Homo sapiens: one gene and its partners. The protein of the gene in region 3 interacts with the protein of the main gene of each other region in a pairwise test. Each region holds a gene or a part of one and is shown on either strand. Other genes may lie near its edges.

What was found.
Region 1: the proteins of PPM1B (region 3) and AATK interact in a two-hybrid assay, tested with the Homo sapiens proteins (one study listed by BioGRID and IntAct).
Region 2: the proteins of PPM1B (region 3) and PTK7 interact in a two-hybrid assay, tested with the Homo sapiens proteins (one study listed by BioGRID and IntAct).
Region 4: the proteins of PPM1B (region 3) and ROR2 interact in a two-hybrid assay, tested with the Homo sapiens proteins (one study listed by BioGRID and IntAct).

The regions. Positions count from the first base shown.
Region 1 is NC_000017.11:81,162,625-81,170,907, reverse strand, and holds the start of AATK (serine/threonine-protein kinase LMTK1), read left to right. Parts: upstream 1-4,686; 5' UTR 4,687-4,915; coding exon 4,916-4,970; intron 4,971-5,160; exon of another isoform or gene 5,161-5,401; intron 5,402-8,283. UniProt on the Homo sapiens protein: May be involved in neuronal differentiation.
Region 2 is NC_000006.12:43,155,862-43,163,036, forward strand, and holds the end of PTK7 (inactive tyrosine-protein kinase 7 isoform a precursor), read left to right. Parts: intron 1-2,955; coding exon 2,956-3,107; intron 3,108-3,926; coding exon 3,927-4,105; intron 4,106-4,859; coding exon 4,860-5,020; 3' UTR 5,021-5,854; downstream 5,855-7,175. UniProt on the Homo sapiens protein: Inactive tyrosine kinase involved in Wnt signaling pathway. Component of both the non-canonical (also known as the Wnt/planar cell polarity signaling) and the canonical Wnt signaling pathway.
Region 3 is NC_000002.12:44,199,266-44,207,538, forward strand, and holds part of PPM1B (protein phosphatase 1B), read left to right. Parts: intron 1-1,920; 5' UTR 1,921-1,934; coding exon 1,935-2,780; intron 2,781-8,273.
Region 4 is NC_000009.12:91,750,700-91,758,972, reverse strand, and holds part of ROR2 (tyrosine-protein kinase transmembrane receptor ROR2 isoform 1 precursor), read left to right. Parts: intron 1-1,413; coding exon 1,414-1,701; intron 1,702-2,871; coding exon 2,872-2,902; intron 2,903-8,273. UniProt on the Homo sapiens protein: Tyrosine-protein kinase receptor which may be involved in the early formation of the chondrocytes. It seems to be required for cartilage and growth plate development. Phosphorylates YWHAB, leading to induction of osteogenesis and bone formation.

The DNA of each region.
Region 1 (8,283 bases), on a different chromosome or scaffold from region 3:
CTGGGTGCCTGTGGGTACAGGGCTGGGGCTGGGGCTGGAGGGGCCCAAGCACCCTAGAGATGCCTCTAAGAGGGCCAAGATGGTGGAGGGGCATGTGGCAGAATGGGGGGGTGCCCACTGCAGGGTGAGGCCCAGCCAGGCAGGGGCATCCTTGGGGCTCTGCAGTGCCTACTGTGGTGCCCAGCAGGCAGATTTGGGTGCTGAGTCCCGGCAGCTACACTTGCAGAAACGCTATTATAACTGGCTAATTGGGATTCAGACATCTGCAGGAAGAATTTGGGAAGGTGCTGACCTTGTCCTGACAGCTGCATGTTCCCCACTTTGCCTCCCTCCTCCCTCCCATGCCCTGCACTCCCATCGGGGGTTGAATTGTGTCCCCCCAAAATATGTTCAAGTCCTGACCCTGATACCTGTGAATTGGGACCTCAGTTGGAAGTAGGGTCCTTGCAGCTGTGATCAAGAGGAGGCCAGACTGGAGCAGGGGGTCCTAATGCAATGACTGGGGCCTGATAACGAGAGGAGAGGACGGACACACACACACGCACAGACACACACGCACCTACACATATGCACACACATGCACACACCCCTACATACCAACACAGACACACATATACCAACACACACAGACACACCTATGGATATGCACAGACATGCACACACACCTGTGTACACATACATGCACACATACCAACACACCTACACATATGCAAAGACACATGCACACACACCTACACATGCACACACACCACATATGCACACACATCCACACCAACACACACATGCCTACACATATGCAGACACACAAACCAACACACACCTACACATATGCACACACATACACACCAACACACATGCACACACATGCCAACACACCTACACATATGCACATACACATGCAGACACACCAACACACACACATGCACACACATGTACACATACCAACACCGACACACGTGCCTACACATATGCAGACACACATGCACACACAAACCGATACACACCTACCTCTATGCACATATGCACACACCAACACACGCAACTGAACATGCACACACACATATACCTACCAAGACAGACACACACAGACACACATATACATACCAAGACACACACATCTACACATATGCACAGACACACATGCATACACACACATAGACACGTACACACACACGCACACGACTATGTGACGATGCAGGCAGAGGTTGGGGCTGCGCAGCCACAGGCCCAGGAAGGCCTAGGGCCACCAGTAGCCGGAAGAGGCAGGAAGGACCCTCCCCTGGAGCATCTGGAGGGGGCGACCCCGCCCACACACACACATCTACACATATGCACAGACATATGTGCAGTGGCGCCATCTCGGCTCACTGCAAGTTCCGCCTTCTGGTTTCAAGCAATTCTCCTGCCTCAGCTTCCCTAGTAGCTGGGATTACAGGCGCCTGCCACCATGTCTGGTTAATTTTTGTATTTTTAGTAGATACGGGGCTTCACCATGTTGGCCAGGCTGGTCTCGAACTCCTGACCTCGCGGTCCGCCCCCCTTGGCCTCCCAAAGTGCTGGGATTACAGGCGTGAGCCACTGCGCCCGGCCGATTACTGTTTTTAACAATTTTATTGAGATATAAGTCACATGCCATGAAGTTCACCACTTTAAAGGGTACAGCTTAGTGTTTTAGCATCTTCACCAGGGTGGGCAGCCATCACCTCTAGCTAATTCAGGGAAGTTTCCTCCCCCCAGGAAGACGCCCTGTGCCCCTTCTGCACTGCCCCCACTTGCCCCTCTCCCGGCTCTGGCCCTCCACCTGTGCTCTGTCCCGTGGATTTGTCTGTTCCAGACATTTCATACAAGTGGAATCACACACTCTGTGGCCTTCTGTGTCTTTCACTGAGCATATTTTCATGTGTCATCCATGTGGTAGCATGTGTCATGCATGTTATAGTGTGGTCAGAGCTTTGGTCCTGTGTATGGACCAATACCATTGCATCGTATGGACAGATCACATCCTGTTGATGGTTTATCTGTGGATGGGCATAACTGCTGAGTTTTTGGGTGCCCCCTAAACTTTGCTCCTGAGGTGCGTTCCTCACTCTGGTCTCTAATCCCCAGACCCCCAGGCTCTCTCCTGCCCCTGCCCCCTCTTTTCCACCACACCTGGGCTTCCTGCTGGGTTCTTGGCCTTTTTCCTCTTCGACGGGCAATGCTTCTGCACCGACACTCTCCCAGCCAATCTGGGCTCCTCGGTCAGCTCCTTCTGGGCTCTAGAGAGTCCCAGGGGCGGAGATCATGCCTTCCCCCAGGCCGGGGGATAGCAGACAGCTATGTCTTCAGGGACCTCTTACCCAGAGGTGCTCACTGATCCTGTCCCAGCGTGGGCAAAAGCCAGCACCTGGGGGGCCCCACTAGGGTCACGGTCAGTGGAAGCATCTGAACTCCTGGTTCCAGCGAAATCTCAGAGGGCCCTGTGCTTCCTGGAGAAGGGGTGTCGCTCTGGTTACGTAGGGTGGGAGTGCTGGCTTGGAGCCCAGGGGCAGCTCCTCCCCTGTCCTTCCTGGAGCCCCAAGAAGATCCACAGCTTGAAGCCCCTGAGCTGTGGCCCAGCCACAAGTGTACATGTGTGTGTTCACAGGCAAAACTGAGAGGAGCCAGCCCCTGGTCACAGCAAGCTGTTTCTGGCCCTGGTCATCAAGGCAGGGACACTGAGGGCATGGAAGTTCTGGACAGAAACTCTCCCCAACATGCCAACCAGCAACCACCCACGGCCACTGGCCACCTCCCCCTGCCTAGGTCCAGGTGTCTAGGGCACCTTCCAGGCTGGGCAGAGGAGGGCACTCCCTCCTGAGCTGGGGAGGGGAGGCCCTGACAGGGGACCCAGAGTGGAGACTCATGAGGGTATGCCATACCCTCTGTCCCTCACACTGGAGCACTCCAGGATCACAGCCTGCTGGCACCAACCATCCCTGCCACTGGGTGGGCACTGATCCTCCCAGCCCTCTGGGCTCCCTGAAGACACAGACTGAACGAGGTGGCCCAAGGCCTCTGAGTGCCTCCTGCGGGCAAGGCCCCCTTCAGCCACTCTACCCACGCGGCTTCTTTACCTGCAACGGCAGCCTGGCGGCAGCGCCCCTTAGAACCTTGGCTGGCCACATGATCAGGGCCAGGAAGAAGGCTCTGGGTGCCCTGTCTCCTTCTGCCCCAGGTGCAGTTGGTGTCTTGTCTCCTACAGCCAGGGACCCCTAAGGTCTGAGGGCACAGGGTGGAGGCCCCTTGCTTTGCCTGTTAGGAGGAAACTTCCTACATGAGGGACCCCCTTAGGAAAAGAAGGGTGGGTCCTGGTGCCCATCTGCCCCGTGGCCCAAGCATCCTGTCCTGGTCTCTGCAGGTCCCTCTGCCGGGAACAGGCTCCTTTCTCTCCCTAAAGTCCTAAGAGCCCTGTTGGAGTGGGCGCCTCTCACCTGCTCCACAGCCCCCAACCCCAACTGGGCCTTGCCAAGGGGCTTAGCCATCTGGTCCCAGAATGAGTGAGTGAATGAATGAGTGAGTGAATGAATGAGTGAGTGAATGAATGAGTGGATGAGGGTGCATCAAACTCAACTGCAAGTCTCCAGGACACTTTTTTTGAGACAAGATCTTGTTGTCACCCGGGCTGGAGTGCAGTGGTGCCATCTTGGCTCACTGCGGCCTCTAACTCCCAGGCTCAAGTGATCCTCCCACCTCAGCCTCCCAAGTAGCTGAGACTACAGGTGAGCGCCACCATGCCTGGCTCATTTTTCTAATTTTTGTAGAGAAAGTGTCTTGCTATGTTGCCCAGGCTGGTCTGGAACCCCTGAGCACAAGCCACCCGCCTGCCCTGGCCTCCCAAAGTGCTGGGATTACAGGCATGAGCCACTGGGACCAGCTTCCACTGAACTTTAACTCTCCCGACTCCCACGGGGGCAGGCTGGGGGGACCCTGCCCCGCCCCAACCCTGCAAGGTGGCACTTTGGGCGGGGATGGGGGATCCTGGGAGAAACATAGGGGAAGGGATGGCCCCTCAGCGCCCAGGCCAACCTGCTGCCCTAAGCACCTGGTACAGTCCACGGCAGGTGGAGACTCAGCCAGGTTCTTCCTTCATGGCTGTCGCAGCACGGTACAGGAGCAGGCCTGTGTGCAAAGCCAGCCACCCCCACTCCACCAGCACAGGTGCCACCCAAAGGGCATGGGGTGGGGGGGCGGCTGCCAGCCGCCTCGAAACCTGCAAGTGAGGCGAGGGCCCCTGAGCACCAAGACCCGCCCTGGGTGTGCTCCCGGGTTCCCCCACCTGTCTCCCTGAACCTTTCCACCTAGGAGTACCCCCTCCCCCACCCCGGCGTTCCCTCCGTACCCACTCACGACTTACCATTCACGACTTCCGTTTCCCCCCCCCCCGCCAGCCTCCGTGCCCCCCTCAGCCCCAGGCCGCCGTGCTTCCCGCTCCGGACCATCCCCCCACTCCGTGCCATCCCCGCTCCGTGCACGGCCCCCCGTCCCCCCTCCTCCATGCCTCCCCTCCGTGTCCCCCCTCCAAGCCCCCTTCTGTGTCCCCCACTCCGTGCTCCCCTCTGTCTCCCCCTCCGTGTCCCCCTCTCCGTGCTCCCCCCATGCCACCCCGGCCGCGGAGGGCCCCCCCCTCCCCCGCGCCGCTCCGCGCGCGCTCCCGCCCGCGTTTTCGGACTGCACCAGCGGAGCCCCGCGGCGCCAGGGCCGGGCGGAGCGCCTCGTCTGTCGCCGCCGCCCCCACCGGTGCGGGCTCTGCGGCTGCGGCGGGGGGCGCGGGGCGCGGGGGCCGGCGCGCTCCGCACCTGCGGCGGCCGCTGGGTGATGCGGCGGCTCGGGCCGGGGCCGCGGGCGTCCTGAGCGCAGCGCCCTCCCGGGATGCCCGCCGGCCGCTGGCCCGGCCATGTCGTCGTCCTTCTTCAACCCCAGCTTCGCCTTCAGCTCGCACTTCGACCCCGGTGAGTCCCTGGCGGCCCGGCCTGCGCGCCGCTGCCTCCCTCCGCTGCGGACGTGATGCCCCTGGGCCCCACGGCTCCCGGTTTGCATGGAAATTAACCCTTTCCCCGCCCCGAGCCCAGCAGCAGAAGCAGCCGGACCCCCTGGCGGCCCCAGATCTCGGAGGGGCAGGCCCTGGGCCCCAGCACAAACCGGCCTCCGCCTGTGGGCTGGCGTCCCCCGCGTGGTCGTGACTCCGTGGCTGCCTCCAGGGCACAGGTAACTGGGGCACGGAGGGCCTGCGTGGGCCCCTGGTGTCCAGGAGAGTTGGTCTCAGACTAAGGGCCCTTGGGGGTGTGGGGGGTGTCAGCCAGCTGGGGTTCAGGCTTTCCATGGCCTCTCCTGGGTCCGGGGCCCTGGCGTGGGAGGCTTCTTCCCAGGCTGGGAGCGATTCTCAGAGCCCTGCCCAGCCACCAGCAGCCGGCGGGGGATGTGGGGGGAGCAGGGGCCAGTCCACATTACAGAGCCCAGTGGGCAGAGGCTCAGAAGAGAGGGGCCTTGGTGGGTGCCCAGATCCCCTGACAGTGGGGGCCCGAGGTGACGCTGTCAAGCTGGCTGCAGGGGACCTGAGGCCAGGCCTCTTACCCCGTATGGCCAGTGCACCGGGCAGGGCGAGATTACCCATGGCTGCCTGGCCTCCTGGCTGTGGTGGACAGCTGGGATAGGCAGAGGGGGCTGGGGACAGCTGGAAGCCCCATCTGTCACCAGGAAGCAGTGGGCTTTCTAAAACCTCTGCTTCTCCAGATCCGGCCCCTGCTTGGCCTGAGTGGGAGATAATCCCCCTGCCCTGTGCCATCCATGGCCCCAGGGCCAAGTCCCACCCACACGTCACTGGGGCTCTGGCACCAGGCTGAGCCAGCCCAAACAAAGCCTGTTTGCATGTGACGTGATCTCCTGTGTCTCCTTCCCTGGAGCAGGGCCCAGTGCACGCAGCCTGGCAGGGAGGCACGGGGGTCCCCGGGGCAGATCTCGGTCTGAAGGCATTTGCTCCCTGGAGGAAGGGAGCTGGTGGGAGGTCTGTCTGCTGGGCTTAGGGCTGTGGGTGTCACTTGCTCAGAAATGACTTCCTGTAGTGACCCCTGGGGCTCGGAAGTCCCTGTGGGGTGGGCAGGTGAAGGCTCAGAGCCCAACAGCCACGGCAACAGCTGTAATGTCTCCCCGGCCCAAGGGCAGGGGGTGGAGGAGGCTTGGGGCAGGTCCTCATCACATCTCCATGCCAGGCGTGGCCCACGGTGCTTGGTCCTTTCTGCCCCCAGAACAGAGAGGACCCTCGGCCCATACCCTGCCTCGGGGCCCAGCCTTGTCCTTGGCCATGAGAGGCCCTTTCCCCCGCCTTCGAGCAGCACCGGCTCTGCCCTTCTCTGGGTAAACAGCTGTGATCTGAATAATTCTAATGTGTCCGTTTAATGACTTAGAGGAAAAGAAGTTGTTGGAGGCAAGGGGCGTCTCTCCTCTGCAAGATGCTGGGCCAGAGCTGCAGGCACCTGCTGGGCTCTGGGGCCCACCTACCAGGAGGGGCTGCCCAAGGTGCTGGTGCTGGTGAGGAAGGAGACCCTCCTTCGGATTAAGGGGCTGGGTCTAGGCTCTGCACCAGCCCCCATGAGAGGGTTAGGGAGGAGAGAGGGGTCTCCTGCCCTCCCGCTAAACTTAGCCCAGCCTTCCAAGCCTGGCTGTCCTGTGCTGCAGTCCCTCTGCCTGGCCTTGCCTCTGTGAACCTCGGTTTTCCCATCTATGACATGGGCCGACAGTACCTGTGGCAGGCCCGGGTGGGCTCAGTGCTTGGTGAGCACTTGGCTGTCTGTGCTGGAGTGGTGGTGCTGGGACAGAGACCCCCAGGGCCCAAGCTTCCTACAGCATGTGGCTGGCTCCTTGCCATCCCCGAATTGGAGCGAGCTGGTTCCTTCTGAGGCTGCTTGTGTCTGTGGGGGGGCACCCAGAGGGGAGGGGCCCACGCTTGTGGCTCTGGCAGTTGGCTTGTGTGTCACTCAGCATCTGGGGCAGTGCTAGCACCTGACATGGGGGTCTCACCTCAGTTGCCAGGCCCTGCCCCGCTGCCGGGCCGGCTCCTTGTTCATCGCAGGAACTGGTGCCAGTCTCCATAGAGGTGACGGCAGTTGTGGTGGTACAGGGGGCAGAGACGCCCGATAGTGCAGGGCCTGAGAGTGGAGGCTGTGGGCACAGACTGTGGGCTGCCTGGGCCCCTGACCTTCCGCACCAGGCAGATGCGGGCAGGGCAGGGGGCACCCGGCCCAGGAGCCTGCTTGAGTGCCAGGAAGAGCCGCCTCCTCTGGAGCCCAGCTCTTCCCCCATCTCCCTGACACTCGGGAGCGTGGCTGGGGGATTTCTTGGCAGCTGCAGCCTTCCAGCCTCTGTGCTGTGTGGCCTCGGACTACTCACCCAGCCTCTCTGAGATCCGTTCTGCACATGTGAAATCTTGCTCTGGGGAGACTAGTGTGGGCATGGCGGCCAGGAAAAGCAGGGTGATGGGGGTGACACATGGGCAGGATGGCCGGGTCCAGGCTGGCAGGAAGGGGGTGGCATGGCCTTGAGCGAGCAGAGGTCACCCCTTCTACCTGAGTGCCCCAAGGGAGGGGGCTGGCCTTGTTGCTCACCCTCCCCAGCCTTCACCTTCCCTGGTGCGGCCTCAGGGCGTCATGATTTCTAGTCGTCCTGAGCCCTGGGGCCTGGAGCTGTCCTAGGCTGGAAGTGGGCATGGGGACACCGCCTCGCTCCGGCTTCTGGAGAGGCGCGCTCAGCCTGAGGGTGGGGGTCAAATGCTCTGCACAGTTAGGAGCAGGGGTTTGCCCTGGGGCCACCTCTGGTTTGCTGAGGGGCCCTTCTGTGACTGGCTCTCCATGCCTGTTTTGTCATCTGTAAGGTGGGAATGGCTGTGATGGCCAGGTCTGAAGGGACAGCAGTGGTGCACTGAGCCAAGGGTGGGTACCTGGGCAGTGCCTACCATGGCTGATCCCTGACGCAGAGGTGTCACTGTTGACCAGTGGGCAGGGCTTGGAGTTTGTGGAAGTTCTCGGAACACGTGGCAGCCTGGATTTGCCACCCCCCAACCCCCGCCTCTCCCCTGTCCCTCAGCTCACGCCCTGTCTCCTGCCCAAGGTCTCTCCCTGTGTCTGACCTGAACCAGGCGCCATGGGGGGTTCCTGGGAGAAGTGCCTGTGCCTGGCCACGGTGCTCGCTCTATCAGCATTCATGTGAACCGGACACCTGGCACAGGGCTGGGCAGGCTGGGCCTCAGGATGAGCCTATTGATGGGGAGAG
Region 2 (7,175 bases), on a different chromosome or scaffold from region 3:
TACACTTATAAAAGTGTTCATAATAACGCTGTTCTTAATAGCCCCAAACTGGAAACAACCCATTGGCATTAGAATTAAAGTATGAGGCCAGGCGTGGTGGCTCACGCCTGTAATCCCAGCACTTTGGGAGGCTGAGGCAGGCTGATCACTTGAGGTCAGGAATTCAAGACCAGCCTGACCAATGTGGTGAAACCCCATCTCTACTAAAAATACAAAAATTAGCTGGGTGTCATGGTGGGCACCTGTAATCCCAGCTGCTTGGGAGGCTGAGGCACGAGAGTCACTGGAACTTGGGAGGCAGAGGTTGCAGTGAGCTGAGGTCATGCCACTGTACTCCAGCCTGGGTGACAGAGCAATACCCTGTCTCAAAAAAAAAAAAAAAAAAAAAAAAAAGAATTAAAATATGAGATGTTTATAATGAAAAACAGACCATGTCCAGTGATTTAAAAAAATTAACCTGGCTGGCCCAGTGGCTCACACCTGTGATCCCAGCAGTTTGGGAGGCAGAGATGGAAGGATTGCTTGATCCCAGGAGTTTGAGACCAGCCTGAGCAACATAAGGAGACCCCCGTCTCTACAAAAAAATACAAAAATAAAAAAGGCTGGGATTGATGGTACACATTTTTGTCCCAGCTACACAGGAGGCTGAGTTGGGAGGATCACTTGAGTCCAGGAGGGCGAGGCTGCAGTGAACCGTGATCACCATCACTGTACTCCAGCCTGGGTGACAGAGTGAGACCCTATCTCAAAAAATAAAGGCCGGGCACAGTGGCTCATGTCTGTAATCCCAGCACTTGGGAGGCTGAGGAGGGTGGATCATGAGGACGAGATCGAGACCATCCTGGCCAACATGATGAAACCCCATCTCTACTGAAAATACAAAAATTAGCTAGGCGTGGTAGTGCGCGCCTGTAATCCCAGCTACTTGGGAGGCTGAGGCAGGAGAATCACTTGAACCCAGCGGGGTGGAGTTTGCAGTGAGCCGAGATCGCACCACTGCCCTCCAGCGTGGGTGACAAGAGCGAGACTTGGTCTCAAAACAAGCAAACAAACAAAAGAATCTTACAATGTTGTGAAAAAAAAAAAAAATCCAGGCACAAAAGAGTATACATTTTGTGTGCTTCCAGTTTTAATCTGGCTCTGAAACAGGCAAAATGGAATTATATTATCTAGGAACATGTAAGTGGTAAACTACAAAGAACAAGAAAGAAATTATCACAAAAGTCAGGGTAGTGGTTACTCCTTGAGGGGAGGGAGAACATATGGTTGGGAAGGAACTCTTGAGTGCTAGCATTGTTGGATTGTGGTTTTTTTTTTTTTTTCCCACAAAAAAATGTAAGCCAGAAGTTTTCTTACCTTTCTACCTTCTAGCCTCCAGTTCCGTTCCTTGGAGGCAGCCAGTCATATGGGTCTATATGCCTTAACACATACACACACGTGCGTGCACACACACAGACACACACGCTATATATATATATATATATATATATATATATATATATATTTTTTTTTTTCTTTTTTTTTTTTTTTTTTTAATAGAGTCTCACTATGTTGCCCAGACTGGTCACAAACTCCTGAGGTTAAGCAGTCCTCCTGCCTCAGCCTCCCAAAGTGCTGGGATTACAGGCATGAGTCACCATGCCCAGCATACACACACATATTTTTAACACAACTAGTAGAAAAGATAGACTTTTGAAGTAAAATGAAAAAGAAACAACCCATAAAGATATCATCTAAGATCAGGCATGGTGCCACTCACCTGAAATCCCAGTGCTTTGGGAAGCTAAGGCAGGAGGATCGCTTGAGGTTAGATATTTGAGACCAGCCTGGGCAACGTAGCTAGACACCGTCTCTACCAAAGAAATATATATATATATTTTTTGAGATGGAGTTTTGCTCTTATTGCCCAGGCTGGAGTGCAATGGCGCAATCTCGGCTCACCACAACCTCCGCCTGCTGGGTTCAAGCGATTCTTCTGCCTCAGCCTCCCCAGTAGCTGGGATTATAGGCATGTGCCACCACACCCAGCTAATTTTTGTATTTTTAGTAGTGCTGGGTTTATCCACGTTGATCAGGCTGGTCTCGAACTCCCAATCTCAGGTGATCCACCTGCCTTGGTAAAGAATTTTTTTTTTTAATTAAAAAGTAAGCTGGGGGCTGGGCGCAGTGGCTCATGCCTGTAATCCCAGCACTTTGGAAGGCCGAGGCGGGCGGATCACAAGGTCAGGAGATCGAGACCATCCTGGCTAACATGGTGAAACCTCGTCTCTACTAAAAATACAAAAAAATTAGCTGGGCGTAGTGGCAGGCACCTGTAATCCCAGCTACTCGGGAGGCTGAGTCAGGAGAATGGCGTGAACCCGGGAGGCAGAGCTTGAAGTGAGCCGAGATCATGCCACTGCACTCCAGCCTGGGCAACAGAGCAAGACTCCGTCTCAAAAGAAAAAAAAAAAAAGTAAGCTGGGCATGGTGATGCACAGCTATAGTCCTAGCTACTTGGAAGGCTGAGGTGGGAGGATTGCTTGAGCCCAGGAGTTTAGAGGCTGCAGTGAGCTGTGATCATGTCACTGCACTCTAGCCTGGGTGACAGAGCAAGACCCTGTCACTTGAAAATAAAAAATATCAGCTATGATTTCTGCCCACTTATTTTTCACTGGACAAGTGGTTACTATGTATGTGCCCTTAGGCCCATGTGCCACTCACTTAATCTGGCACTTGCTGTGTGTCAGCATGGTGTCAGGCACTTTAGTTTGCTTAGTTCAGTCTTCTAACAACCCAGGAAGGCAGGTACTGTTATTATCCCCATTTTACAGAGAAGGAAGCTGAGGCTGTTGTGCTTCTGGGCTTCCTACGCAGCACACCAATAGTGTTGAAACGCTACCAAGGGTTGTGTTGAGGGTGGTCATCTTGATGCCTATTCCTGGGCTGCTCTAACAGGCCCCTTTATCTCTCCAGGTGGCCCTATGCACCCAGGTAGCCCTGGGCATGGAGCACCTGTCCAACAACCGCTTTGTGCATAAGGACTTGGCTGCGCGTAACTGCCTGGTCAGTGCCCAGAGACAAGTGAAGGTGTCTGCCCTGGGCCTCAGCAAGGATGTGTACAACAGGTAGAAGGGCATGCGTGGGGTGGGGGCTCCCCATTTTTTCCCAGAGGGTGAGGGGCAGAGGACAGATAGTTTGGGGGGTGTGGGAAAGGGTTTAGTGCCTGCTTAGTCCAAAGCTGGAGGGCCTGGGATAGGGAAGAGCTTTCTCATCCTTTTTCCAAGGGTGCAGCAGGCTTCCCACCCAGTGCACACCCTTGGTGGTTGTAAAATGTCTCTAGCGATTAAATAAATAAATAAACCTTTTTTAAAAAATAGGCAAATTTGATAAGGATTTATATATAATCTATTTATATGGCTCTCTCTGTAACTTCCTGAATTCAGTCATTATTATTTTGAAGTCTGAGACTTATGCCTCAGCACCCATGCCAGAGCTTGCTCTAGACAGCCTACGAGGGCTCTGCAGCGCTGCCGGGAACATCACCCTGAGTCCCTCTGGTTCCAGGTCACCCCCATTTGTCTGACTATAGCTGTAGTGAGGATTGGTTTATCACTAATAAAGCTCTTTCCATTTAACAGTTCTTAGTTTTTACATTTTTACAACCAATATAGAAAGTATGTATGACTATTAACTTTTCTGTTAACATTTAGGCAAAGTTTGATTCTTAATGGAAATTTTTTAACCATCAAACCTCTCGTGTGGTTACCTCCAGATTTTGTCTAGTGTACTCCCATGCTCAGCACGCATGTGACCAATTTCTTGATGTCTGTATGTAGAAAGGCTGGGCCCCCGGCTTGGGGATGCGTTCCAGATGGGGAGATGAGGGTGCAGCGCCAGGCCACGCTCCCACCCCACCTCACCCCTGGGTTGCTTCTCTCCTGCAGTGAGTACTACCACTTCCGCCAGGCCTGGGTGCCGCTGCGCTGGATGTCCCCCGAGGCCATCCTGGAGGGTGACTTCTCTACCAAGTCTGATGTCTGGGCCTTCGGTGTGCTGATGTGGGAAGTGTTTACACATGGAGAGATGCCCCATGGTGGGCAGGCAGATGATGAAGTACTGGCAGGTAGGCAGCCTTGCTGCTAGGGGATGATTCCAGATGGGCCCCAGATGGGGCCTACTCAGGGCCCCAGGGCTGGTTCAGCCTACCTCCCTCTCAGGGCTGCTACTGAGCAGGCACACAGATACAACCACTCTGGTTGTTAAAATACTGCAATACTTTGTTTTTCTTTTGAGACGGAGTGTCGCCCTGTCGCCCAGACTGGAGTGCAGTGGCCCGATCTCCGTTCACTGCAACTTCTGCCTCCTGGGTTCAAGCGATTCTCCTGCCTTAGACTCCCTAGTAGCTGGGATTACAGGCACGCACCTCCACTCCCTGGCTAATTTTTGTATTTTTAGTAGAGATGGGGGGGCTTCACCATGTTGGTCAGGCTGGTCTCAAACTCCTGACCTTGTGATCCACCCGCCTCGGCCTCCCAAAGTGCTGGGATTGCAGGCGTGAGCCACCACACCTGGCCGAAAATACTGCAATACTTCTATATTGGTTGGTAAATAGCCTTTGCCCCCAGTGCCCACTCCAGCCACTCTGACGCCTGTCCGCCAGCCCACTTCAGCTCCTATGCATGGACCCCGTCCTACCAGCCAGAGTGAGTGGGGCCAGGGGAGTCATCTTTTTCCGTTGCGGGTACCCACCTGCCGCTGGCCAGCATTGCCCCAGAGGCATCCTTGGGTGGCTGCTTGTATAAACTGCAAGGTCCACAAAGTGTTGAACAAGTTGTTGAATGTTTTGGCCAACACTGCACCTGCTGTCTTCCCTACAGATTTGCAGGCTGGGAAGGCTAGACTTCCTCAGCCCGAGGGCTGCCCTTCCAAACTCTATCGGCTGATGCAGCGCTGCTGGGCCCTCAGCCCCAAGGACCGGCCCTCCTTCAGTGAGATTGCCAGCGCCCTGGGAGACAGCACCGTGGACAGCAAGCCGTGAGGAGGGAGCCCGCTCAGGATGGCCTGGGCAGGGGAGGACATCTCTAGAGGGAAGCTCACAGCATGATGGGCAAGATCCCTGTCCTCCTGGGCCCTGAGGCCCCTGCCCTAGTGCAACAGGCATTGCTGAGGTCTGAGCAGGGCCTGGCCTTTCCTCCTCTTCCTCACCCTCATCCTTTGGGAGGCTGACTTGGACCCAAACTGGGCGACTAGGGCTTTGAGCTGGGCAGTTTTCCCTGCCACCTCTTCCTCTATCAGGGACAGTGTGGGTGCCACAGGTAACCCCAATTTCTGGCCTTCAACTTCTCCCCTTGACCGGGTCCAACTCTGCCACTCATCTGCCAACTTTGCCTGGGGAGGGCTAGGCTTGGGATGAGCTGGGTTTGTGGGGAGTTCCTTAATATTCTCAAGTTCTGGGCACACAGGGTTAATGAGTCTCTTGGCCCACTGGTCCCACTTGGGGGTCTAGACCAGGATTATAGAGGACACAGCAAGTGAGTCCTCCCCACTCTGGGCTTGTGCACACTGACCCAGACCCACGTCTTCCCCACCCTTCTCTCCTTTCCTCATCCTAAGTGCCTGGCAGATGAAGGAGTTTTCAGGAGCTTTTGACACTATATAAACCGCCCTTTTTGTATGCACCACGGGCGGCTTTTATATGTAATTGCAGCGTGGGGTGGGTGGGCATGGGAGGTAGGGGTGGGCCCTGGAGATGAGGAGGGTGGGCCATCCTTACCCCACACTTTTATTGTTGTCGTTTTTTGTTTGTTTTGTTTTTTTGTTTTTGTTTTTGTTTTTACACTCGCTGCTCTCAATAAATAAGCCTTTTTTACAACCTGTTTCTGAGATTCATTCCCTGCTCTTGCTCGTGGAAGATGTTCCTTTTTCCCCCGCTGATGAGAAGGGGCCGTGTGCAGGCCGGGTGCAGTGGCTCATGCCTGTAATCCCAGCACTTTGGGAGGCTGAGGCCAGTGGATCACCTGAGGTCAGGAGTTCGAGACCAGCCTGGCCAAAAAGGTGAAACCCCTGTCTCTACTGAAAATATAAAAATTAGCTGGACATGGTGGCAGGCGCCTGTAATCCCAGCTACTTGGGAGGCTGAGGCAGGAGAATCGCTTGAACCCAGGAGATGTAGGTTGCAGTGAACCGAGATCACACCACTGCACTCCAGCCTGGGTGACAGCGAGACTCTGTCTAAAAAAAAACAAAAAAAAAAAGAGAAAAATGAAAGGGCCATGTGCCTTCATGGAGTCTGGTGGGGCTTGGACAGGATGAACCGGTGGATATTGGTTCTTCTCTCCAGTTTGCAGGGCAGGTGAGCATGCAGGCATGAAGAAGGCAAGATCACCTGTTGTCTGTGCAACCCTGTGCTGTCCTCTGACTGTCACCTAGACGGGCCTAATCCTTGTGCTCAGATGGGGAGGGTAGAAGCGTGAAGGGGAGCAAGTTAGAGTAGGATTGGAGAAGGAGTTAGTGACAGACTCAGGTCTCTGAGTCCTTTCAAGACCCTAGGAGGGAAGTGAAGTAGGTAGAACCAAGCAGAGAGACGGTGCTTAATGCCTGGATCTTGTGTCCTCACCTATCCTCTGCCTCATTCCAGTAACTTCAGCCTGGTTCACCATCCAAAAGAAACGAGTCCTGAACTCCAAAACTGCTCTAGTTCCTTTACTCCTCACCAAACTTCTGAATAATAAAAATAACAGCAGGCTGGACATGGTGGTTCACACCTGTAATCCTAATACTTTGGGAGACTGAGGCAGGAAGATCACTTGGGACCAGGAGTTTGAGACCAGCCTGGCCAACATAGTGAGACCCTGTCTCTACAAAAAATTTAAAAATTAGCCAGGTGTGGCGACATGCACTTGTAGTCCTAACTACTGAGGAGGCTGAGGCAGGAGGATCATGTGAGCCCAGAAGTTTGAGGTGGCAGTGAGCTATGATCACAACACTGCACTCCAGCCTGGGTGATCAAGTGAGACCCTGTCTCAAAAAAATAAAAAAAACAGGCCGGCTGGGCACGGTGGTTCACGCCTGTAATCCCAGTACTTTGGGACCTGAGGTGGGTGGATCCACGAGGTCAGGAGTTTGAGACCAGCCTGGCCAATATGGTGAAACCCTGTCTCTATTAAAAATACAAAAGTTAGCTGGGCGTGGTG
Region 3 (8,273 bases):
AAAAGAGCCGGGTGTGGTGGCACGTGCCTGTAGATCTCAAAAAAAAAAAAAATAAAAATAAAAAAAAAAAAAATTGAGCCAGGTATGGTGGCACGTGCCTGTAGTCCCAGCTACTTGGGTGGCTGAAGCAGGAGAATGGCTTGTGAACCTGGGAGGCAGAGGTTACAGTGAGATGGCACCATTCAACAGAGTGAGACTGTATCCCCTCACCCCCCAAAAAAGAAAGAAAAGTGATTTAGTAAATACAGCCAACAATTCTGTTTCATTTGCATTTAAGTATCTTTTAAAGTTGCCTTTCAGATGAAATAGCCTATACAAGCAAGCATATAAAAATGTACTTAGAACTAGGCTTTAAAATCATTGTATCACAGAGAATTAAACCAGCATGTTCAAAAGTAATCAAGCATATTCTGTTACATTGCTCTCAGTACAAAATATGACATTCTACTGATAGAATGAAAAATAATTTTTACATGATTTTAATCTTATCCTTTCAGGACTCTTTTTCTATAAATACATTTGTAATTTATTAATACAGTATCACATATAACCCAGGAAAATTATAAAACTGGTATGTAACTTATAAATATTTACATATATATATCGAGTGGTTCATCAGATTTTTTTAAATGGCGATATGTAATTTTATTGTAAAGTTCAATAATGATCATACCTGGAAAAAATCTCACAAAGATACGTAGACCCAAATGGAGGTAAATTGATCTAGACCAGTGTCTCTCAAAACTTTAAATCACCAGCATGCTTTTTTGATGATTCCATCTAAGATCTATTGAAAAAAATCCTTAGGTGTGGGAATAGGGCTATGGAGTCTGCATTTTGAGCAGATATAACAGCAAACATTTTATGGTGTTTATTGTGTTTTAAGTGCTGTTTTAAGCACTTTACATTGACTCATTCTTCACAGCAGCCCTATGAGGTATAGGTACAGGTGACTAAGAAATTTGCCCAAGGTCACCTAGTTAGAGTGTAGGGTTAGCATTGTATGTAGAAAACATACCAGAGAATTCTTTTGCATACTTTTGGGAACCATTACTCTAAGTCTAATCTAAGTCATTTGAAATTGGGAAAGCTTTATTCTATAAAATAGTAAAGTTGGGTAGGCGGGGAGAGGGTGATGCATAGTAGTACTTTCCAATTCTAAGGATTTTAAGTCTTTGTCAGTCAACACTGGGTAGCTACTTCATGGATTTTAAGTTCAGCAAAGTGAAGTCCATTTTTTAGCACCATGTTAAAGGTATGTTTTTAACAGAATCAAAGTAATGATAAGGTTTTCAGTTTTATAGATATATAGTAAAAGTGATAAAACCAAATGTGTGTAGAATGGAGATTTTTATGTTTTAATTGAATTTTGGGGTTGTCTTTAGGTTCACTGGGAGGAGAAATCTTGATTTCAATACTTGCTTTTGAAAGTCTTCTAAAGTATATTAGTATACCTTCCTACCTTGATTTATTGAACAAGATGACTCACTGTTTTGAATATTCTCATTGTCCAGTCTTCTGTAAACTTACATGTCGAACCCTAGACTCACCTTGTAAATTAAATCAGAATGAAATTATTAATGAAGTTTTATTTCTTGTTTTTTCCTTTCTCCTAGAACAGTGGTCTCAACGTGGCTGCACATACAAGTCACCAGAGAGGCTTTTAAAAGATGATATCTGTGTCCCATCCCTAGGGATTCTGATTTAATTGGTCTGATTATTCTTACGCGCTAGGGCTGAGAAACCACTGTTCTGTAGGATGTAGGGGAGGAAATTTCTTGGGCTTTTGTTGTTGCTCCCGTAAATTAGGATAATACTAAAAAAAATACTTGAGGTAGGAGTTACTAGACTATAGAGGGAATATTGTACATACATTTTCTGTCAAATTTAAACATTTAACACCTGCATTTTTTATTTCAGATTTATTGCTAAACATGGGTGCATTTTTGGATAAACCCAAAACTGAAAAACATAATGCTCATGGTGCTGGGAATGGTTTACGTTATGGCCTGAGCAGCATGCAAGGATGGAGAGTGGAAATGGAAGATGCACACACAGCTGTTGTAGGTATTCCTCACGGCTTGGAAGACTGGTCATTTTTTGCAGTTTATGATGGTCATGCTGGATCCCGAGTGGCAAATTACTGCTCAACACATTTATTAGAACACATCACTACTAACGAAGACTTTAGGGCAGCTGGAAAATCAGGATCTGCTCTTGAGCTTTCAGTGGAAAATGTTAAGAATGGTATCAGAACTGGATTTTTGAAAATTGATGAATACATGCGTAACTTTTCAGACCTCAGAAACGGGATGGACAGGAGTGGTTCAACTGCAGTGGGAGTTATGATTTCACCTAAGCATATCTACTTTATCAACTGTGGTGATTCACGTGCTGTTCTGTATAGGAATGGACAAGTCTGCTTTTCTACCCAGGATCACAAACCTTGCAATCCAAGGGAAAAGGAGCGAATCCAAAATGCAGGAGGCAGCGTGATGATACAACGTGTTAATGGTTCATTAGCAGTATCTCGTGCTCTGGGGGACTATGATTACAAGTGTGTTGATGGCAAGGGCCCAACAGAACAACTTGTTTCTCCAGAGCCTGAGGTTTATGAAATTTTAAGAGCAGAAGAGGATGAATTTATCATCTTGGCTTGTGATGGGATCTGGGATGTTATGAGTAATGAGGAGCTCTGTGAATATGTTAAATCTAGGCTTGAGGTATCTGATGACCTGGAAAATGTGTGCAATTGGGTAGTGGACACTTGTTTACACAAGGTATGTAAACTTTTTTGTCATTAAAATAACATGTTAATTTTGAAAAGTTACGGTAGGTAAAGTTAAGCTAACTTAAAATTTTAAAACTTTTAATATTTTCACAGAAGCTGTATATTTTGAAGTACTTTACCAGAAATGAAACCATTGTTTTCTTTGCCATCCTTGTTTGTCCCAGCCTTCTAATTTGAAAATTAAGCTTGATAAATTTGAGGCATTTGTTGTCATTTAAGTACTTCATAGCTTGTTGCTGTAGCAAAAGCATTTACACAGAGTGACTTTTTCTTGACATTGGCAGTAACCATCTTATGCCTGATTATGAAGCAGCTTGATAAAATATGTATATAGTAGAATTCTGTACTAGATATTACTAAAAGATCAAGAGCCATGTGAAATATTGGAAGATGTACTAGATGCCTAGCCTGTATAAAATTTAGTCCTGAGCCTCCTAGCAGTGAAGACAAAAACTGAAATAAAAATATGGGTTGTATATTTCTCATTGTCTTCTAAAAGCAGCTCTTATCTGGCAATACAATCTAAAAAGGATTTACATGTGGCTCTCTAAGTAATACATGACTTGGATAGTATCTTTTGTAGAAGATAAAATTCTTTTCATATAGATGTTTTTATTATTTCTGATTAAAAACCAAAGGCTTCTATAAAACATAATCTTGTGAAAAATTCCTGTGGAACACTAAAGTTTATTTAGATTTGTAATTTTGTATGAATCATTGCTTGATACAGTAATAGAAAAAAAGTCCAGAGTAATAGATAATTGGCAATCCTTTGAATATCTTTAAAATACTCAGTTGTTTCAAGTGGGTTTTTGACAGCATCTATATATAATTCAATTAAAATTTGAGTTATCTGGCCAGTGTCTGGAGTGTGTAAGTATTTGACTGAAAAGATACCAAGGTAAAACTGACCTTTAGTTACATGAAATAAATAAAGGGTTTGACTTATTTATTCTGTCTAGATTAGAACCACTGTATCTCCCTACTCCAAAATGTACTGTGGAAGGTATGGGCATAACCAGAAAGTTTTTCAGAAAGGATCTCTGGGTCTCTGGAAATGCCCAGATTTTGGTTAAATACCGATTTCTTTTTAATAGAATGGAAAGAGGCAGTTTTAAAAACAGAAGATTTAAAGGCCGTTCTTGTCAGTGGACAGCCTTTTTCTGAAAGGATTTTAATGATGGTACCTCTAGCTCCTCTGATTTTTATTTTTAACACACTGTATCTTTTTACTTCTGGATGAGTTAAGTAAAGAAGTATTGATGGTTGTCAGTGATCAAATAGTAAGTGGGTCTAAAATTATGTATTTGTCTTTGAACTCTAAATGAAGCAATTCTGACCTGTAGATTTTTGAGACAAGCATAGGCATATGTTTGTTGCCTGACTAGCTAATGAAAACAGCATTTTCCCCAATTATAAAAAAAAGGTATATACTTACTATTGGAAAAAAAATCCAGATGATGAAGAAAATATAGAGAAACACCCAAAATTTTGCCATCCACCCTAAGTCAGCTACTTTCATTGTTGTGGTGTATATTGTTCCAGTCTTTTCTGCCTGCCTGTGAGTGTGTGTATTTTTATAAAACCGAGATGATTATACTTGTTATTCTACAGCCTGCCTTTTCCAACAATATATTGTAGAGAGATCTCCATGCCTATAAGTATTGATCTGTATCATTTTTCTTGGCTGCGTAGTATTTTATTGAAAGAATGAGGTTGTGAGGGAATAGCCAAAAAATCTATTAGGTCTGTAATTTGGACTAAGGAAAGAAGTTTGTGTTAGTAGATTAACTCACTTATCCATTGAAAGGATGCTAGTTTTTGAGAATTTTGACTCGACCCTTCTGAATGAGGTTTAAATATTTCTGGTGGTATATCTTCACTTGCTAGCTTTTATCAATTTAGAGTGATTAAATGTTCATGTTGATGGTGTTAAAAGATTCTAGATGGCATCCTAGAATCTCAGAAATGAGGAATGATAATAACAGACAAGAAGTTGGGGCCCATGATTCATTCAATGTTAATGGAAGCTGACCATCATAGTTCCTTCTAATGGAGCTGCATTCAAATTGAAATCAGTTTGGAGGTTTGAATTGAAACAAAACAGACTTAAAATTATTTTTGAACCTTTGAAAGTTACTTATGGAAACCTTCATTTCTGTTTAACTTCGTAATTTTGTCTTTCCATTTATTTGTATTGTAAAAGCAAGGGTTAGCAATAAGATCAAATATAATTACTTTGAATTTACTCAGAAAAATTGTAAGTTAAAAATTCATGGAAAGCACTTAGCGATTGCACAGTAGTTACCTGCTGTAAGAGGAGAGGAAACATTAATAAGTAGATGTTTCCCTGATAAGAGATTTAAATGAAGTCCTAGTTTTTTCTAACACCTCCATCACTTGTCATACTTTCATAATTTATAAGCACTTTTATCTTAACTCATTAAATCTTGGGAGGTTATCATAATCATAATCGTGGTAGTATTAGTAAATTATTGCTTTCTGTAAGCCAAACACTATTCTAAATACTTTACATATTTTAACTCATGTAATTTTCACAACCATATGAGGTAGTTAAGATGACGAGGTCAGGAGATCGAGACCATCCTGGCTAACGCAGTGAAACCCCGTCTCTATTAAAAAATAGAAAAAATCGGCCGGGCGTTGTGGTGGGCGCTTGTAGTCCCAGCTACTCAGGAGGCTGAGGCAGGAGAATGACTTGAACCCGGGAGGCAGAGCTTGCAGTGAGCCGAGATCACGCCACTGCACTCCAGTCTGGGTGACAGAGCGAGACTCCGTCTCAAAAAAAAAAAAAAAAAAAAAAAAAAGATAAGCATTTTTCAGGGTTGCCAGTTAATATTAATCTGTAAGTGTTGTATGACTGTGGTCAGGTATTATCCTATTTAAATTAGGTATTTAACTCGAGGGGAGAATGGGAGCTAAGAAAGCAACCCTCCCATTTTATTTGCAATGCTGGCATTTATGGTGTTTACTGCCAACTAATTTCGGGTTGCTTAAAATATGTAACTGCCACGTGCATAGCTTTTCATAACTTGTAAATGATACATACTTATTAATCCTCATAGTAACTTTCTGAGGTGAACAAAATAAAAAGTTTTTTTAATTTGCAAGTAAGGAAATGGAGGTTGTTTGATATTAAAAGATATCCATAAGTCATATACTTGGTGAGTATTGAGGCTGAGACTAGTTTTCTGACTCAAGTTTAGTATTTTTGTTAACAATATTTCCCAGAAGGGCCTGATAAAATAAAGAAGAGTGGGTGTGGGTGTGGGTGTGGGTGTGTGTGTGTGTGTGTGTGTGTGTAAGTGTCTGTCTGTTTCGGTTTTCATGGTCTGAGAAATTTTTCCCCAAGGGAAACATTAAGACTAAATTTTTTTTGTAACAAATACAGAGATGTTTGAAGTAAAGTGATTCCCCTTGATGTTTCTGCTTTCCAGTCTCATCTCACTTAGGGAACCACTGCTCATGGTTTGCTGTATATCTTTCCAAATGGTTCTCTGTGATTATTGATAGAAATGTATAAACGTAAAATAGGATTTTTTCTTTTTTTGTATTTTATAGAAAAAGATCATGCTATGTTTGTTACTTTGTCACCTGTTTTGTTTTTCTTAAATTATAAAAGTCGGTATTCTTTTAAATTGTTCTTTTAAAACATTATTTGATTTTCCAAAATTTCATTTATATACCATCTACCAGAAGCCTATTTATTTTAAAACATGAGATAGTACCTCATAGTTGGATAAAATTGAGGGAAATTATCATTTTCCAAAGGCAACATCATTCTATATTAATTTATATAACATAGAAAATGTAACCCCCTCAATAATTGTTTAGTTCTAAACTCAGGAGAATTGCTTGAACCTGGGATGCAGAGGTTGCAGTGAGCTGAGATCGCGCCATTGCACTCCAGCCTGGGCGACAGAGTGAGACTCCGTGTCAAAAAAACAAAAACAAACAAAAAACTGTATCAGATTGTTTTCTGTTTAAGTTTAGATGCCCTTATTTATGGCAGGGGCACTGGCGTCTTTGATCTGGTACTATGATTATTAAGAGTGTTAACTGCTGTGCTGTTGTAAAAAGTAAAAAGAACATGTAATAATCAATTTTTATATGCAGAGCTAATTTCTTTAGTTATCCAAACTGGATTTAGAAAAAAAAATGTTTTATTTATGGACTTAGTGAAAACTTTATACTGATTATACAAGGATGTTTTGTCTCTAAAAAACAATGGCACAAAGGAAAGGACCTTTTCTGTTGCTGTATAACAGCTACTGAAACATATTCATACTTGGTGTTTAGGGGAAAGCCATCTTTACATAGAAATAGAAGCAAGCCAGGCAAGGTGGCTAAGAAGCAACATCACTGAAATCACACATGCCTGAGATGTAAATATAAATTATTTCCCTTAAATGTCTTTGGAGAACCATAAATTTATTGGAACTCTCTTTCAATTAATTTTCCAAAAGTATTTATATTTTATAACTTACAAAAATCGAATGGAAATTAGATAAGGAAATGTTCCACAATGCTCATGTTGTTGTTACCAAAAACTCAAAAGGGTTAAAAGAAATTAGATTTCTAAAAGTGTAAGGTGTTAATTCCGTTTATGCATAAAATTGCTTTATAAAGTGTAATTATGCTTGATTCTTTTTTTGTTGTTGTGTTTTAGAAAGGGTGTCTCACTGTGTTGCCCGGGCTAGTCTCAAACTCCTGGCCTTAAATGATCCTCCTGCCTCAGCCTCCCAAACTGCGGGGATTACAGGCAGCCACCATGCCCAGCTGTTTGATTCTTGAATATCCATGGTGTACTTTAAAATTATTTTTAATTAAAAATTTTTGCTTGAACTGCCCTTATGACATTTATACAAGTATATTCATATAACCAAACACATACAGTATTTCTAATATAAAAGTTTTGGTGGGTTTCATTAAGGAATGAATTAATTTGGCCAATTTGGAAATGGTTTTTCCAGATAACCGGGAATCTAATGAAATACTCAAGTTGGTTCCTTGTTCCAAAGCACAACAATCTGTGACAAGTTAATTTATTTTGAAGTCTTCTGAAGACCCAACCTTCACTGCCTTCAAACTTTACTCCCATTGAATTAGGAGGTGAAGGCAGAAGTTATTCAAGGCCACCTGTCTTTTGGGCTGTGTCATGTAGGTTCTGAAAGGCATAAGTCTGAACCGAGCCATGCCTGCCTAGATTCTAGTCATAATAACTGAAAAGACTAGAAAGGGTGTGGTCTTGGTTTCTTTCACTTGAGTTGGCAAATTTGGCAAACACTATCAGACAAAATAGCCTACCACCTCCACTGACTTTGTTTTTTAGAGTGAACAGAAAAAGAAAGTTTGAAAAAAATCGTTATTCCAAGAACAGTTTCATCTGCTCCTGCTCTTAGAAACTCAGTTAAAGTAATATACCTTTAGAAAAAGTAATGAGAACGTATTTTTAATTGAT
Region 4 (8,273 bases), on a different chromosome or scaffold from region 3:
ATGTAAGTTCATGTTGATGATTAACTTTCTTGTCCAACATTAGTTTTCCCTACATGTTACATTAACAGAATTGTATTTGCATGTTCCTCTTAAGAGACGGAGTAGTTCTCCAGCCTCTTGACCACACCACACACCTGCGTGTGCAGGCACACACATACATGTGCACCACACAAACACCACACATGCATACTCACACACATCCCTCCTCCTTTGTCCCTTTCACTTCCCCTTGTTCCCTGTAGCCTTGCGTTGCCCCCTAGAGCTCCTGCCTGTGGCTGTACTGGGCTCCCCACTTATCAGGGCAGTGTTTCCAGCTCCTATTTTAGGAGCAGCCCACTCACTCCCCATTCTGGGTGCTTTAAGACCCTGTGTGCCCCCTAGTGTGTGTGCGCGGGACTGCTTCTGTCTGCTCTGGACCTGGGTGCAGCAGGACAAAGCCTTCAGCTCCCCCTCATCAGCATTGTAACTTCTGTTCTATTTACAGGACTGTGATTAGCTTGGTTTGGGGATGTCCATGTTTTGTCACACATCTTTTTTTAATATTTTACTTCTGTGGCTTTGTGCTTAATGATATGGTAGGCAAGGAGGAGGGACTTTCTGAGCGTGAATTTACATCATTTTGACCAGCCTGGGTTAGATGTAGTGTTTGGAAAGAGAAGCACAGTTGATCCTCATCATTTGCAGATTCCGTAATTGTGAGTTCACCTAATACCTAAAGTCTATTTGTAACCTCCAAATCAATACTTACGGTGCTTTTGTGGCCTTTCACAGACACACGCCCACGGCAGTGAAAAATTTGTGTCCCAGCTGGGGCTAAACAAGGCGATGGTCTGCTCCCTGGTTTCTGCCCTCATATTGTGAACATGTGGCCTTTTCTTGGTCTATTTAGTGCCAAGTTTCTTGCATATTTGGGCTTTTTGTTGGTGATTTTATTGTTTATGATGGCCCCCAGGCACAGCACTGAAGTGGTCTGGTGTTCCTAAGTGCAAGAAAGCTGCGACATGCCTTATGGAGAAAAAAATGTGTGTGAGAGAAGCTTCGTTCAGGCATGAGTTATGAGGCTGTTGGCCATGGGTTCAATGTGAAGGAATCAACAGTACACATTGAATATGGTGTCTTTAAACAGAAACACACATAAACCAAGGTTATGTATTGGTTGGTTGGTGAAAGTATTATGACGAGAGGCTCACAGGAATTTGACTCTGTATTTCCCATAGGAGCAGTGGTTCAGTATTCACTAATTCAGTGTTCCCTGTAGCTTTCTAGAAGATAATTACCGCAGATAACAACCTATTTTAGTAGGTGACAAAAATCGAAACCTTCCCTTGGAAGAGTTCATAGCAGAGCCCCCAGGTAGCCCTTCCTTCCAGCCCTCACTGACGCTTGCTCTTTTGTGACCGCTCTCCTTGGCAGGTTACTTTCTGAATTTTCTGGAGCCAGTAAACAATATCACCATTGTCCAAGGCCAGACGGCAATTCTGCACTGCAAGGTGGCAGGAAACCCACCCCCTAACGTGCGGTGGCTAAAGAATGATGCCCCGGTGGTGCAGGAGCCGCGGCGGATCATCATCCGGAAGACAGAATATGGTTCACGACTGCGAATCCAGGACCTGGACACGACAGACACTGGCTACTACCAGTGCGTGGCCACCAACGGGATGAAGACCATTACCGCCACTGGCGTCCTGTTTGTGCGGCTGGGTGAGTTGGACAGTGAAATTGTGTGGGTTAGCAGATATGAAGGTTCCCAGCCACCGAGCAAGAGGTCCAGTTGCTATTTGAAACTGAACACACACCAGTCAGCACGAGGGGAGAGCAATGAAACCGTTCCCTAGGGCCTTCCCCATGTGCCCCAGGGCCCAGCTTGACCTGTTACCCATTTACTAGTAATAAGAGAAAATAGGGCGAGGCACGGTGGCTCACGCCTGTAATTCCAGCACTTTGGGAGGCCGAGGTGGGCGGATCACCTGAGGTCAGGAGTTTGAGATCAGCCTAGCCAACATGGTAGTAGTTGGCCAGTTTAGTAGAAACTCCATCTCTACTAAAAATACAAAATTAGCCTGGCATGGTGGCGGGCGCCTGTAATCCCAGCTACTCAGGAGGCTGAGGCAGGAGAATCGCTTGAACCTGGGAGGTGGAGGTTGCAGTGAGCCGAGATCACGCCATTGCATTCCAGCATGGGTGACAAGAGTGAAACTCTGTCTCAAAAAAAAAAAAAAAAAAAAAAAAGAGAACAAAAAGAAAATAGGTGCAGATGGAGAGGTTTATGGACCTGGAGCCCAGAAGACAATCCCAGGCACACACGAGGAGCTGAGGTGTTTAGCAGGAAGGCTGTTTGTTAGGAGGTCAGGTGTCAGTGGGAGAGTGGCCACACTGCAGGACGGCTAGGTAGGGCCCGAGGCTGACCTGGCTGGGGTGGGGAGAGAGCTGAGTGCGATGACCAGAGATTCTGAGTCTCTGTGCTCGTCACACCTGGTGAAGGAATTAAGTGGCAGGAAGGACTGTGTCCCCCTTCATCCCACCTGTGAAAAACTCCCAGGCAGCAAACGCCCCGGCCCTGCCACCGAAGCCCACGCCATCCGATCATAAGTAGTAAAACAGATTTTGTGTGTAAAGACTAGATGAGAAGAGAGAGAGTAAGGACAGCAAAAACTCCAAAAACAAAGATATCCTCAGTGACAAAGCACCCCTTCCCTTGTGTGTGGTTTCCAGCCTTGCTGACGTAATCACGAGTGGAGCCTGAGGCCCGAGGACAGCTGCCCACCAGTGAGCCCGCTGGCTTCAGCCTGTTTGCCACTGGCCTGATTTGAAGAAGGTTGTATTCCAAATCATGGAGTATTAATAACTTGTCTTTTTGTTTCCTCTTTTTAGGTCCAACGCACAGCCCAAATCATAACTTTCAGTAAGTATCTGTTTTCCCCAAGCCGTGTTCTGCTGCTCTGAGGGTTTTTGTTATGTAGGAATCCGGGGTTTAAATCCTGCCAGCTCATGTCTTTGCCGAATTTGCTAGAAGTTGGCTGGGCTTCACACAGGGGTGGCCACGTGCTTGCTTAGGGTTGGGAAACATTTACATTTTTCATGTTTCTTGTACAGAAAAAAAGTCAGAAAAACAAAAATGGTTAATTTCTTTCTGTGATTGTGACCTTACACAGGGCTACTGAGAGGAGTATAAATATACAGGCCAGGTTGCCTGGGCACCAGGAAGGATACCGGCTCATTAGGACATTGGGAAACAGGGACGTAATTCACTCTGAAATCCCAGCACTACCAGCTGCAGTTAATAAATGTGTGCCCCTGAGCCTTGGGCCACCCCGTGGCAGTGGGTGGGAGTCTCAACCCCACCTTGCAGATGAGGAGACCGAGGCTCACAGCCAGGCTCACACTCCTTCACGAGCTGCTGACAGCAGTGGCTTTGAACTCAGGCCTCTGGTTTCCCAGTACGAGGTTATTCCACTGTGGCCAGGCTGTCTTGGGAGAGTCCCCTCTGAACTGCCCACACTCTCCCATCGTGTACCCAGAGGAGTGCTCATTCCATTGCCGGTGTTTGAGATGAGCAGTGACTGTCCGGGTTTCCTGCATTTCCTCCTCAGACATATTGGAGAGCAGTGCTTCACTTTGAGATGTTCTGAACAATAGCATGAACACTATATGGTTGGTAAAGTGTGCAGTGTTGGCTGATTTCTGTTTCCCTGGGCCTTGTACCCATTACCCACCCATGATGTGCTGCAACACCACGTTGGGAGGCTGGGCAGGGCAGCGACCTGTCTCAGCAGACATCAGCAGCTTGCTTGCAGAGGGCAGATTTTTTTCCCCCCCCAAATAGACAGGCCTGGCTTTTCACCCAGACTGGAGTGCAGTGGCACGATCACAGCTTACTGTAGTCTTGTACTCCTGGGCTCAGGCCATCCTCCCCCTTCAGCCTCCCAAGTAGCTGGGACTGCAGGTGCGTGCCACCACACACCCGGATAATTTTTTCTTATTTTTTGTAGAGATGGGGTCTCACTATGCTGTCCAGACTGGTGACAAACTCTTGCCTCGAGCAATCCTCCTGTCTCGCCCTCCCAAATCACTGGGATTGTAGGTGTGTGCCACCACACCTGACCTAGAGGGAAGATATTTGGGAAGATTCTGTGCTGAGCAATAGTGATGGAGCATTTTTCCTTAATAGTCCTTCAGACACAGAGTAAGGAAAGAAGAAATTGCATCATGAGCACAATTATGGGGCTTTGGAAAAAGGCATATAAGTCATTTCAAAAGTTGAACTATTGTTCTCTCTTATTTTATATTTATGTCTTTTATTTTAGTTATTTTATTTTTTGAGACAGAGTCTCGCCCTGTCACCCAGGCTGGAGTGCAGTGGTGCAGTCTCCGCTCACTGCAACCTCTGCCTGCCAAGTTCAGGCAATTCTCCTGTCTGAGCCTCGAGTAGCTGAAATTACAGATGCGCACCACCATGCCCGGCTAATGTTTGTATTTTTAGTAGAGACGGGGTTTCACCATGTTGGCCAGACTGGTCTCGAACTCCTGACCTCAAGTGATCCGTCCACCTTGGCCTCCCAAAGTGCTGAGATTACAGGCATGAGCCACTGCACCCGGCCTATATTTATGTATTTTATAAATAAAACTTTTATAGTTCATTTATATATAGTTACATAAATATATTATGTAACTATATAATATATTGTAAATACATAACATATAATTACAGAGCTATAATTATACAAATATTAAACATTCATATATTTATATACAAATTGTAAATATATATATTTATATAAATTATTTCACAATATTTTTACATTGACTTTCTTCTCACTTTAAGTTATGGATTTAATCCACACATTGATGTAAATGACTGGGGCAGTTTCGGAAAGTCCCGCCTGACCTCCCATCCTTCCAGGCCTCCTGCCTCCCTTGTCATAAAGGTAAATCATCCAGGGAGTTTGTAGGCACTCAGTACATACATACATCTACCTAAGGAAATACAAAACAATCAACTTGAAAAAAGGTCTAAAAGCACATAAATTACTCAGTATTATTGAGGCAATGAAGAAATATGCTTACCTATACACTATTGATGAGAAATTTCTGGAGTGCTATTTGACAATAAACACAAAAATATTTTTAAAAAGAAATACCTCTTATCAGTTTTATATACTTTTTTACATAAATGATGCTATACTTGACATGTTTAGTTAACAGTATTCACAGAAATCTTTCCATCTCAGTGTATTTGAGGTTTCCAGATGCTCTCTTTCCCTGTTTCTGGACTCATGTGCAGAGCATGTGACTGTTCCATTGTGACAGGCATTCCCATCAGGGAAGCCTCATCCCAGCCACTCGTGCCACCGCGTCTCCCTTCCCTGGCCCTGAGACCTGTGGCTGGGTTTCTCTAGGAGAGATTCTGAAGAGGAAAAACTAAAGGGGCACAGGCATCCCCTTTTTAAAACTGATACTGCCAAATGGTCATTCGTAGGTTACTTTCCCGACAACGTCAAAGGACCCATTTCTCCTTATCTTCCATAAGATGACTTCCAAACTTGTTAACTTCTGCCACTCTGAAGGATGAAAAATGAATAAATGACCTGCTTTGTTCTCCATTTCCCTGGTTACTAGTGAGGCTGAGCATGTGGACACACATTGCTTGGCACTCATGTCTCCTCTTTGTCAATTGCCACTTCATATTCTTCGCTCATTTTTCCTTTACATTGTTTCTTAATGAATTTTGATAATTCTTTATGTCTTATTTCTTGATCATATAGAAATTAAAACTTTTACAAATTAATAATTTGTTTTTCATGTTATGTCTTGTTAAAGAATGTCATGATTTCCTTGAAAGATTCTGATGGTAGTTTGATTGGAATTACAATGAATTTTTAGGTCAGTTTGGTGAGAATTAATATCTAAATTGAATTTTCTTATCAAGGACTACTTTCCTTTGTGTTTTGAGGTGTTTTCTTTTTCTTAACATTTTATAATGAAAAATTTCAAACATACGGTTGAAAGAATTTTATAGTGGGCTCCTGTATACTCACCAGCTAGATGCTAGCATTTACATTTTACTGTGCTAACTTTATCACTTATCGTTCCATCCAGCCTCCATCTGTCCATCAATCCATCTGATTTTTCATTCATTTCACTGAGTTGCAGATACTTGTACATTTACCCTGAAATACTTCAGCATATATATCATTAATGAGAGTTCAGTATCTGTTTATGATTCTTGCTCCTCCTTCTTCAGTTAAAATTTGCATACCAGTGAAATGCACACATCTTAAGTATAGCACTATAAGGTCTGACAAATGCATAAATCTCTGCAATCGAAACACCCTATCCAGATACAGAATCTCTGTCACGCTTGCAGGCTCTGTCGTGCAACTTCCTAGTCAACTCCCTTCTACCCCAGGCACCCACTATTCTGATTTTTTAAGTAATGGACTAGTTTTTCCTGTTATTAAACATCACAGAAATGAAATCCTTCAGGATGTAGCCACTTAAGCCTGGCGTCCTTTTAGCATAGTGCTTTTGAGATTCATCTGTGTTGTACATGTATCAGTAGGTTACAGCTGTTTATTGCTGAATAGCATTTTATGGTATGAACATACGCGTTGATTTATCCATTCTCCTGTTGAAGGACACCTAAGCAGATTCCAGGCTTGACTACTATGAATAAAGTTCCTTGTATAGGAATACTCTATACTTTTTGTGGACATGCATTTTCATTTCTGTTAGTGTTAACTAGGCGTAGAATTGCTGCATTATAGGGCATGTGTGTGCTTAATTTTATAAGACATTCCTGGGCCTTCTCCTGAACTCTTTTTACCTCCACCCACAGTGTGGGAGACTTGTGATGACTCCACATATTTCCCAACATTGGTGTGGTCAGCCTTTTTAAGTGTAGCTATTCCGGTGTATGCAGTGATTCAAGTGATTTTTTATATCATTCCAGCCTCTTGAAAAAGCAATTTTTACTAGTCATTTTTAAATTTTCAAATAAATGTATTTAAAGCTGTAAAGTTTCCTCTGAATACCATCTCCCTGCTTCCACCACGCATTTAGGCTTCTGTTGTTTGATACTGTTTTCTGATTTTTGTTGCATTATTATTAGTGAATATGGGCTGTTTATGTTTTATTCTTGATAATTTATTGAGATTTTTCTTTGTAACCAGTTAGATACGGTCCATTTTTGTGAATCTTGCCTGTTGTTTCAAAAATACGTGTGCTTTGATGTATCTGCACATTTCTTGACTCATCTGTGAGATTGAGTATTAAGTATGTTATTAAAAATATCTATATATTTTTTATCCACATGAGTACCAGATACCTGAAGATTTGTGAAAGTCACCCACACTCAATCTGGATTTGCTAGTTTCTATTAGTTCTCTATTTTTAATATTTTGTGTGTATTTTAAGGTTATATAGGTTTTTGTGGGGTTTTTTGGTTTCTTTTTACAGTCCCTTTTAGTGCTTTTTGCCTTGAATTCAGTTTTGCCTAACAATAATAGAGTTCCACATGCTTTTTAAATTTGCATTTGCCAGGAACCGTTTTTATGATTCCTGTCCCACTCTTTAGTCTTTCACCTTTTTGTGTTCTGTTTTATGTAGGTCTCTTGTAAATGATGCATAACTAGACTTTTTTTGGGAGGTTGATGTGGAGACCTTTCCAGTCTGAAAGTCCATGTTAATACATAGTTAAATTCATTTTAACTAATATACAGTATTCCATTCTGTGAGTCAGTTTCCACTTGAATCATGCATTGACTGCCGAGTGAAGGTTAGTTCTTTTCACTGATAGGGACCCTCTTATAGTGACTGTGCATCCCAAGTCTCTTTGTCCCTATGGGTGAAAGTCCTCCAGGGACAGAGATCAGGAAGCAGGATTACGGGTGTGCATCTCCCACCTCTCCCAGGAATGGCCAGATTGCCCTCTATGATGGCCAAGTCATTCATAGCCTCACCTGCAACACATGAGTTATTATTTCCTCATGTTTTCTAGCACATGGTATTATCAGAACTTAAAATGTTGCCAGCATCTTAGGTGTCAAATAGTAATTTTACATTACATTTCACCAGTAAATAGTGAGGTTGAACATCATTTTGTCGTTCTAAAAGCCATTGCATTGCCTGTGTGTATCCAGCCTATCCTCATTATTTTCAGATTCCATATTTGCAAATTTGCTTATTCACTAAACTTCGTGTCCCCCAAATCAACACTCGTGGTATTTTCATGGTCATTCTTGGACATGCACAGAGTGGAGAAAAACCTGAGCTCC